2 separate regions of the Homo sapiens genome follow, and region 1 is linked to region 2. The links come from fine-mapping of genetic effects on gene expression. Tissue or cell type: whole blood. Region 2 holds a variant in brackets; the other region holds the start of a gene. All regions are shown on one strand. Distances are between the middles of the regions.

Evidence for each region. PIP is the estimated chance that this variant, and not a neighbour inherited with it, causes the effect.
Region 1: it holds the start of HM13, and the variant in region 2 is fine-mapped to the expression of HM13 in whole blood (TOPMed, PIP 0.93).

What each region holds. Positions count from the first base shown.
Region 1 is chr20:31,512,529-31,517,674 of GRCh38, forward strand. HM13 (histocompatibility minor 13) reads left to right here and starts at 1,914. Exons shown (of 13, transcript NM_178581.3): 1 at 1,914-2,206. The coding sequence starts at 2,024. RefSeq lists a silencer at 2,511-2,580.
Region 2 is chr20:31,603,337-31,608,482 of GRCh38, forward strand. ID1 (inhibitor of DNA binding 1) reads left to right here and starts at 1,953. Exons shown (of 2, transcript NM_002165.4): 1 at 1,953-2,477; 2 at 2,717-3,174. The coding sequence starts at 2,052. The coding sequence ends at 2,758. MIR3193 (microRNA 3193) reads left to right here and starts at 3,850; the gene lies at 3,850-3,904. It overlaps LOC105372588 (a long non-coding RNA gene), which reads right to left and starts at 1,859. Exons shown (of 2, transcript XR_936669.2): 1 at 1,767-1,859; 2 at 1,355-1,609. RefSeq lists enhancers at 577-1,415, 1,151-1,330, 1,720-2,390, 2,391-3,060, 3,107-3,685, a silencer at 3,710-4,004 and a cis regulatory region at 5,066-5,146. The variant C/G (reference allele first, on the strand shown) is at 1,968.

The sequences.
Region 1 (5,146 bases), 91 kb before region 2:
AGGCACTCTTGCGGGAGGTGGCAGCTCATGCCTATAATTGCAGAACTTTGGGAGGCCGAAGTGGGCAGATTGCTTGAGCCCAGGAGTTTGAGACCAGCCTGGGCAACATGCCGAAACCCCATCTCTACTAAAAACACAAAAAGTTAGCCGGGCGTGGTGGCACACACCTGTGGTCCCAGCTACTGGGGAGGCTGAGGTGGGAGAATCACCCAAGCCCAGAAGGTAGAGGCTGCAGTGAGCTGTGATCATGCCACTGCACTCCAGCCTGGGTGACAGAGTGAGACCCTGTCTCAAAATAATAATAATAATAATAATAATAATAGGCCCTCCTTGAAGTTTTTTGTTTGCACAGTCACACAGTGATGCTTAGATGTTCCAGTATCTAATATAGCCACAGTAGGCTGCAAGCAGTGGCTCATACCTGTAATCCCAACACTTTAGGAGGCTGAGGCAGGAGGATCACTTGAACCTAGGAGTTTGAGACCAGCCTGGCCAACATGGCAAAACCCCATGTCTAAGAAAATATATATTTTTAACTTTTTTAACAATATCAAAAATAAGAATCACATAAATAAACAGATTCTTCAAATTCTGAAAAGAGCCACAAAGCTTTATAAATTGTACAGGGGCATGAACTCGTAAGGTATTATAATTGCCTGGCACATAGTAGGCTCTCAATACATTTGCAAACTCCACACACACCTTACTTTCTTTTGCTTTATTTTTCTCTATTTATCTGCATTAACATGCTATGTAACACATAACTATACATTAACGTTTTACAAATTACAAATTTTTCTTGTTTTTTTTTTTTTTTTTTTTGAGACAGAGTCTCACTCTGTCGCCCAGGCTGGAGTGCAGTGGGCTCACTGCAACCTCCGCCTCCCAGGTTCAAGCCAGTCTCCTGCCTCAGCCTCCCAAGTAGCTGGGATTGTAGGCGCCCGCCACCACGCCCGGCTAATTTTTTATATTTTTAGTACAGACGGGGTTTCACCGTGTTAGCCAGGATGGTCTCGATCTCCTGACCTCGCAATCTGCCCACCTCGGCCTCCCAAAGTGCTGGGATTACAGGCGTGAGCCACCGCGCCTGGCCTTTTTTTTTTTTTTTTTTTTTTTTTTTTTCAGACGGAGTTTCGCTCTTGTTGCCCAGGCTGGAGTGCAATGGCTCAGTCTTGGCTCACTGCAACCTCCGCCTCCCGGGTTCAGGCGATTCTCCTGCCTCAGCCTCCCGAGTAGCTGGGATTACAGGTGCGTGCCACCACGCCCGGCTAATTGTTTGTATTTTTAGTGCAGACGGGGTTTCACCATATTGGTCAGGCTGGTCTCGAACTCGTGACGTCAGGTGATCCACCCGCCTCGGCCTCCTAGAGTGCTGGGATTACAGGCGTGAGCCACTGCGCCCAGCCCATTTTACAGACTTTTATTTTGTTCAGTTTCTTTATTGTCTTCCCAACGTCCCCCCACACACACTGCACTAAAATGCAAACTTCACGAAGGCAAGGAGGAACTTTTGCCTGTATTGTTCACCTCAGTGTCCCCAGAGCCTAGGTCAGTTGTTGGCATATTGAGGGACATTCAATAAATATTTAAGGAGTGAATAAACAATTGGATACCCAATAAATGCATGTATGAATAAACACATTCTTAGTTATTCGGAATATGAGGATTTGCGGAGAGTGGACAGCAGGGGATTGAGGAGACCGGCTGGGACTGGGAAATGGGCATTCGGGTCGCATGCCCACCGCAGTGGCCCAGAGCCCCTGTCCGGACCGCTAACAAGTTGCTTAGCAACCCGCCGCCCGGCCCTCGGCCACCGCTAGAGGGCGAGCGGGCGGGGAGACGTGCACGCGCGCGCGCGTGCGTGCAAGCGTGTGTGCGCGCGTGCGCGGCGCGGGCTTGGGAGGGAGCACGTCACTTCCTGTTGCCTTAGGGGAACGTGGCTTTCCCTGCAGAGCCGGTGTCTCCGCCTGCGTCCCTGCTGCAGCAACCGGAGCTGGAGTCGGATCCCGAACGCACCCTCGCCATGGACTCGGCCCTCAGCGATCCGCATAACGGCAGTGCCGAGGCAGGCGGCCCCACCAACAGCACTACGCGGCCGCCTTCCACGCCCGAGGGCATCGCGCTGGCCTACGGCAGCCTCCTGCTCATGGCGCTGCTGCCCATCTTCTTCGGCGCCCTGCGCTCCGTACGCTGCGCCCGCGGCAAGGTAGGGTCAGCGGGAAAACCGGGCACTTTCCACCCCCATACCGAACACGGCCGACATGGACCCTTCCTAGGCGGGACAGACACCTCTCCCCGGACACTGACTCTTCCCAGCCCTGATCACCACCGTTCCCTCTGTCTCGGGCCCACATTCCGGGGCTGGCATTTCCTACCCCGGGATCTGGGCACCGACCCCCGACCAGGGTATGATACCTTCCCCAATAGGAACTTGCTTCTGCTCCCGACCCGGACCCTGACACTTCCCTCCCTGTGCATCATGCCGCGGCTGGGAACGCTGTCAGCCCGTCCCCCACTGCGACTCGGGCACTGATTGTTCTGAGCCTGTTGGGCCCAGGCAGATCAGCCCCATCATGTATACCTGATGGATACTGGTCCTCACAACTTACTGAATGGTACAATTTCGTGTCATTCCCTGTTAGGAACCCTGCCTCAGCCCACCGCAGGGCCCTTTCTACCATCCAGACCCATCCCTAGACTCTGACTCCTGTCTCACTGGAATCTATGGCACCTTATGTGCTCACCTAGATCCCCCACACCTGGCCCTTGCCCCTGCCTCAAAAACAATGATCTCTTAGAGCCCAGTTTTTCACATCACTTTCTGGAACCATCCCAGTCAGCTGGCTCCTCAGAAGCTGGCATCTTGGTGCCTCTACTTTCCAACTAGGCATGGACGTCTTATTTTCCTGGTTTCCTCTCTTAACTACCATCCAACCTTGGACATGGCCTAGTCAAAACCTAGACCTTGTTCCTAACCTGTAACCCTTTTCCCACCCAGCCTTTGACCCTATCTCAAAGTAGCCCTTCTCCCCATACCCCCAAGACAATCCCCCCACCAAACTGGGCCTGTCTGCTGGGCCACTGTTGGCCCCTCTTGTGAGACTGGGCCAGACTCCATCCCTGGCCTTCCTCAACATCTGTCCTATTGGATAACTAGGAGGACTCCAGCACATTTCACCTTCTGCTTCTCCCTCCCCCTTCCCTGCCCCACTTCTTCCCTATATTAAGCCCTTTCTAGCCCGTTGTACCAATGACTTTTCACTTCCTGGCACCCTCTCCCTTCCTCCACAACCTCTTAATCTGCACCTTCCCGATGCTCCTCCCCCACCCAGACCTGAGGATGGACCTAAGTGGAAGTCTTGCCCAAAGAGGGCAGGCCCACAAAGCAGCTGCCACTTTTGAAACTGCTGAAGCTGAGGTTCTCAAAACACTACCCAACTTGAGCAGTAGCTGAGGCCTGCCATCTTCCTTCCCCAGGAGCAGAGAACTCACTACTGGCTCTGTATGCGATCAGATGCAAAGGAAAGTAGTTAGGCGGGGCTTAGGCTGAGAGACTCAAACATGACTCCATTTTCCTTTTTATTTGGCTTTTTCTAAGCTGAGTTCAGGTGATATTAAGCCTCTCTACTATGCCTGTCAGGTAGACACTTAGTGTAGAGAGCAGTTCTGAGATAACCCAGGACAGAGGAGGCGAAGGACAGCTGGCATAAGGCTAGGCAGCTTGATCTGAGCTGCTCTCCAAACTGAGTAATTCTCCCTGGCACCTTCTGTACATGGATCACTAATCTCTGCAGAAAACACCTTCCAGGCAACAGTATTTCCTGAACTTCCACCACTGTCAGGGGTAAGGGAGGATTGCTGCAAAGATGAGTAGGTCAGAGCCCTGTCACCAAGGAATTCGGGAGCGTAGGTGAAAGAATAATAACTAGATTGTGATTATACTACAAGCAATGCTACAAGGTTTAGGGAGAAAGATTGAGCACATCTGGGACAATGCAGGGAGGCTTTGTGCTAGAGGTAGGCCTGAGCCTTGACGTAGAGGTAGAATTTCAGCCAGGAGAAGGCATTCTAAGCAAAAGAAACCAGGTAAGCAGAGAGAGGTACGGAGGCAGGAGGCTACGAGGCAGTTCAGGAAATAGTGGAAGGTTTGGTGTGGCTGGAACAGAGGGTATGGATAGGAGAAAGCCTTAGCCTCTGAATACCTCTCCCAAGCATCTCCTGCAGGGCAGCAGGGTGTGGAGGACTGTATGAATTTACAAACAGGACCTGACCATTAAGAGCCTGCCACCACCAATGACCCAGATGCGGTAAAGCTTGCAAAACCTTGACGCCCTTTGATGCTCACAGCAACTGAGGTGGCAGGCAGAGCCAGTTTCATTATCCTCATTGTACAGGAAAAGAAACTGAGAGTCAAAGAAATGACTTCTGAAGATCACTCTGCCATTTAGGGGCAGAATCAGGTATGCCTAGTCCTCATCCAGGGCTCTCTCCTAACACAGGTACCTTTAAAGACAAGCAGCATTGACCTAGGGAAAGGACAGGGCAAATGACTCCCCTTCTACCCTGAGTCGTTTCCCTGGTCATGTGAAAAGGAGAGAGAAGAGTTAGTGTGGGGACCCAGTTTTGATTTCCCACCAGTGTTGGACCCCAAAACCAGTTGGGAGAGAGGGAATGTGAGGACAGAATCCCCAAGGGTCAAGGTGTCCATAACAGGCAGGGAAAATTGTGAAATCATGGAGAGAAAGAAGGTAGAGCCTCCAGGAGTATGTTGTGAAGAAGTAGCCTTGGGAGGAGCAGTCTCAGAGCAGCACCCATCACTGTCAGAGTCCTATATCCCAGACAGAAGCGAATATGACCCAGGCAGTAGCTGCACATTAAACATTGGTTTAAAGGGCCCTCAGCGAACAGGACTGGGTGCCTGCTGTGGGCTAGGCTCTGGGCTGGGTACCAGGAGTTCCGGGACAAAGAAGGCCAAGCCCTGCCCTCACTGAGCCCAGTCACCAAGGAGAAACAGACATGTGACTAGTCAAGTAAATAGAGCTCTGATAGGCCTCCTGGAGGGGGCAGCAGTTGTCTCTGCATGGATTGGGAGAGTCCAACAGGCAGAGCAGGAGAAGGTGGGGCAGGGGACCACAAGATGTGTTCA
Region 2 (5,146 bases):
CCTCCTGGGTTCCAGCGAGTCTCCTGCCTCAGCCTCCTGAGTAGCTGGGGTATTACAGGTGCGCGCCACCACACCTGGCTAATTTTTCATTTTTAGTAGAGACGGGATTTCACCATGTTGGTCAGGCTGGTCTCGAACTCCTGACCTCGTGATCTGCCCACCACGGCCTCCCAAAGTGCTGGGATTACAGGCGTGAGCCACTGCGCCCGGCCCCCTGTATCCTTTTTTTTTTTTTTTTTTTTGAGACGAGTCTCACTCTGTCGCCAGGCTTGAGTGCAGTGGTGCGATCTCGGCTCACTGCAACCTCCGCCTCCCAGGTTCAAGCAATTCTCCTGTCTCAGCCTCCCGAGTAGCTGGGATTACAGGCGAACGCTACCATGCCCGGCTAATTTTTGTATTTTTAGTAGAGATGGGGTTTCACCATATTGGTCAGGCTGGTCTCGAACTCCTGACCTCAGGCAATCCACCCGCCTCGGCCTTCCAAATTGTTGGGATTACAGGCGTGAGCCACCGCGCAGCCCTTCATTTTTTAAAATAAGAAATAAATGAAAAAAGATGATCAAGACAAACTCTTCATACAGTGCCCGCTGTACAAAGTAAGAAATTAATAATGGTCACGTTTGTGATTATTATTTAAACACCAAGCAGATATTAAATATTAGGGCTCAGAGAGGGCATGCGACCCGCCTGAATTCACTCAGCTGCAGAGCTGGAAAGAGAACTCAGGCCTTTTTCCCCACGCTGGAAGGGGTAGCTGGGGCGGAGAGGTGGGGGGAGCGGTGAAGAAACCCCAAGCGGCCCAAGCTGTGGGTCTGGGTTGGGAGACTCGCAGGTGTGGGGCGGGGAGGTAAGGTGACCCTTGCTCAGCGACCGCGCCCGCAAGAAACGCATTCCCAGGCCTCCCGCCCGGGGTCTGCAGGTGACGGGCTGGGGGGAGCACGGGAACTAGCTAGACCAGTTTGTCGTCTCCATGGCGACCGCCCGCGCGGCGCCAGCCTGACAGTCCGTCCGGGTTTTATGAATGGGTGACGTCACAGGCCTGGCGTCTAACGGTCTGAGCCGCTGGTTCAGACGCTGACACAGACCGGCCCGGGAAGGGAGGGGGGAGACTGTAGCTCCGCAGCTGCCGCGCCGTGGGAGGGAGACCCTGCTCTGAGGTCTTTGAGAAGAAAATTTAAAAAGCAGCCAAAAATGGGAAAAAACATTAAAAAATCACGAACTGTTGCAGGTTCAGGAAATTTTTGCAAGGAGCTGCAAATTCAAGGTGGAATCGAATGCAGCCTCACTCCACTGCGCTCTATCTAGTTCACTTCCCAGCCACCCAGCCCCAAACTTACTAGACTTTCCCGAATTAATTGCTCCCACCCGGGAGGGATCTGGGTAGGCCCTCCGGGTCTCAGGAACACGAACAGCAACATTATTTAGGAATTGAGAAAGCCCAGGGGAGCAGATGTAAAGGAGCGCCCGCTTTAAATTTCGGTCCTGATATTTGTAGATCAGGGTCCGAGAAGCATCTTCCAAGAGGGTCCGGAAACCCAGGCTCTCTGGGCTATCCAGAGCCAGCCGCTTCTCCGTTCGGGCCTCAATTTCTCTCATCTGTGAAATGGAGCTGGAGAAGTGAGAAAGTGAATATGGGAAAAACTGATTCCTGAGGTCTTTTCATTATAAGGCAATGCCTGCTTAGCTTCCTTGCCTCCTTCCAGAGGAGCCCAGTGCGGCCCTCGCCTCTACCCGCTGCCCTGCCCGGTGCCCTGCCACCGACCCACCCTTGCTGTTCTGAAACCCGGGTCGTCTTTCCACACTGCGAGCAGGCACTAGACGAGCAGGAGGCTGGACCTAGGAGCGCGGGTCACGCCCCCATGCCGCCCATTGGCTGCTTTTGAACGTTCTGAGCCCGCCCCTCCGGGGGCCGTGGCGTGTTTATAAAAGACAAGCTGTGGCTCCGCACTCTCATTCCACGTTCTTAA[C/G]TGTTCCATTTTCCGTATCTGCTTCGGGCTTCCACCTCATTTTTTTCGCTTTGCCCATTCTGTTTCAGCCAGTCGCCAAGAATCATGAAAGTCGCCAGTGGCAGCACCGCCACCGCCGCCGCGGGCCCCAGCTGCGCGCTGAAGGCCGGCAAGACAGCGAGCGGTGCGGGCGAGGTGGTGCGCTGTCTGTCTGAGCAGAGCGTGGCCATCTCGCGCTGCGCCGGGGGCGCCGGGGCGCGCCTGCCTGCCCTGCTGGACGAGCAGCAGGTAAACGTGCTGCTCTACGACATGAACGGCTGTTACTCACGCCTCAAGGAGCTGGTGCCCACCCTGCCCCAGAACCGCAAGGTGAGCAAGGTGGAGATTCTCCAGCACGTCATCGACTACATCAGGGACCTTCAGTTGGAGCTGAACTCGGAATCCGAAGTTGGAACCCCCGGGGGCCGAGGGCTGCCGGTCCGGGCTCCGCTCAGCACCCTCAACGGCGAGATCAGCGCCCTGACGGCCGAGGTGAGATCCAGATCCGACCACTAGATCATCCTTATACCGACGGGGAAACGGAGGCCAGAGAGGGCGTGGGCGCTTGCACCACTTCCGTCCCATCCTTGCGGGTACCTGGCTATGCGGGGGTGCCTAAGGAGCCTGGAAAAAGCGCTCCCCCGTCGTGCTTCCTGGGGAAGGGGGCGTTCGCTGCGCTCGGAGCGGCGTCCCTTCCAACCCGCCGGTCTCATTTCTTCTCGTTTTCACAGGCGGCATGCGTTCCTGCGGACGATCGCATCTTGTGTCGCTGAAGCGCCTCCCCCAGGGACCGGCGGACCCCAGCCATCCAGGGGGCAAGAGGAATTACGTGCTCTGTGGGTCTCCCCCAACGCGCCTCGCCGGATCTGAGGGAGAACAAGACCGATCGGCGGCCACTGCGCCCTTAACTGCATCCAGCCTGGGGCTGAGGCTGAGGCACTGGCGAGGAGAGGGCGCTCCTCTCTGCACACCTACTAGTCACCAGAGACTTTAGGGGGTGGGATTCCACTCGTGTGTTTCTATTTTTTGAAAAGCAGACATTTTAAAAAATGGTCACGTTTGGTGCTTCTCAGATTTCTGAGGAAATTGCTTTGTATTGTATATTACAATGATCACCGACTGAAAATATTGTTTTACAATAGTTCTGTGGGGCTGTTTTTTTGTTATTAAACAAATAATTTAGATGGTGGTAAAGTTGTAGTGACTTCTTGGGTTGAGGGGAGGGGCCTGGGCTGGGGGTTGACCCCTGACCCTCTTCACAGCTGGTTCTGGGAGGAGAATTGGAGGGCTACATCTGGATTGTTGCTCTTACCGGCCTGAATGAGTGTTTCCGGTGTCTTTAAAGTCTATTCTTCCCCCACCATCCCTGCCCATTTCCCTGCTCCCCAGTGTTATAAAACTAAATACTCCAGACCTCTGGGGTTTCTCACAGTGATCATTGGGCCATCTAGATCACCTGGGGAGGTTGTTAAAATGCAGATGAACCTGCCAGGGCCCCCTCTGTATTGGGAGTATTGAGCAAGCCATTTAAGTTGGAGAACCTGGCCGCTGGACCACCCACTTCCTTGCCAAGATGTGGATAAAGTGAGACCCAGTGGAAAGGGACTTGCTTAGGGCCATAGCTTGTGAGAGGCAGTGATTCTATCACCCCATTCCCCAGTTGGAGGTGCCTCCCCCAACAGCCTACCTCTGGGTTCCAGCAGGCAGCCCTGGGGCTCCTGGCTCATCCAAGTGGGTGAGCAAGTTGGCAGGGCCAGGCTGGGCACAGCTGCCGAGACACCTGCTCTGGGTCCAGACTCGGCCTCCTCACTCTGGCCTGGCTCTGTCGGCAGTTCAAACAAATCTCCCCCACCAACCCCGGGGCTCCTGCGTAGGATCTGAGGAGTGGACGAGTCTCATTACCCAGCTCCTGAGCAGGAAAAATATGTCATTGGCAAGGGTCTAAGAATCTTCCTGGACATGTATGTGGATTTCTACTCAGGGGAGCATGTATGAGTGTCTACGCCTGTGTATGTAACAGGAGTAAGCTGATCTTCCCCCACTACTCCCACAGTGGGGATGGGCCAACTGTTCACATATAGGCTTGGGGGAGGGGGTGTAAGTAGGAGTATGCTTGGGGGTGTGTGCAGAAGGGCAAATGAGAGCACATGTGTTCTGCAGATAAGTGTGGAACCTCCAGCTGTTTGGGCTTGTGTGTTCTGCCTAAATGCATTGTAGGCATCTCTGCATGGGTCTGGCATGATGGATGGGTTTGTGTGTCTGGGGGCCACAGAACCACACTGTGGGTTTCTGTGTGTATAACTGTTCTATAGATTGGTTGGCATTCCTGGGCCTCTGCGGGTCTGGAGTGAAGGTGGGGACAGCTGTGTTTGGGCAAACCCTTCCTCAAAAGTTCACGTGGCAACTCCCTGGGCTATCGTTAGGTCCTGGGGGCACCAACCCTCAAGGATTGCTGCCAGGTAAACCCCCCTGTATTACATATGGAGAAACTGAGTCCCAGGAATGACAAAGAACTTGTCCCAGACAGGTAAGGGCTATTAATATATTTTGTCAATAAACAATAGAATAAAATCAATAGCCCTTAGCACCAGAAGCCTGGCTCTGCTCAACTGAACCCTTTACAAAAACGATTTCATGGATCCCTGTGGGGCTAAAGGCAAGACTGTGATCCCAGTTTTACAGCAGAAGGAACAAGCTCAGAGAGGGGATGAACAAAAAATCAAATGAAAGATTATGATTTGAGCACTAACATTAAGCCAGGTACACCCCCTCCACAGTTTATGGATTTTATCGAAGAACCCAGTACTTGCAGGCGAATTATGTTCTTTGCTACCTCCTCCCCACCGGCTGCTGTATTACAGTACTAACCTCACGGAATGTAGTACAGAATAAATGAAATAAAGTAAGTGTGTAAAACGTTTAGCACAGTGCTTGGCACAGAATGTTTCATAGTTATAAATTATTATTGTCGCCTGTGAGTCCTTGGAGTGTCCTCGGAGGCACACGTGTGCACGCACGCACTCTCACGTGTGGGCCCCCGCCTGCAAGCCCACCCACGGGGTCTGAGCGGGTTCCCCCTCGCGTACTCCGACATGCAGGGCCTTTTTCCAGGGGAGGAAGGGGCTGCGGCGGGGGCCTGGGCCACCTCCCCCGCCATTCAG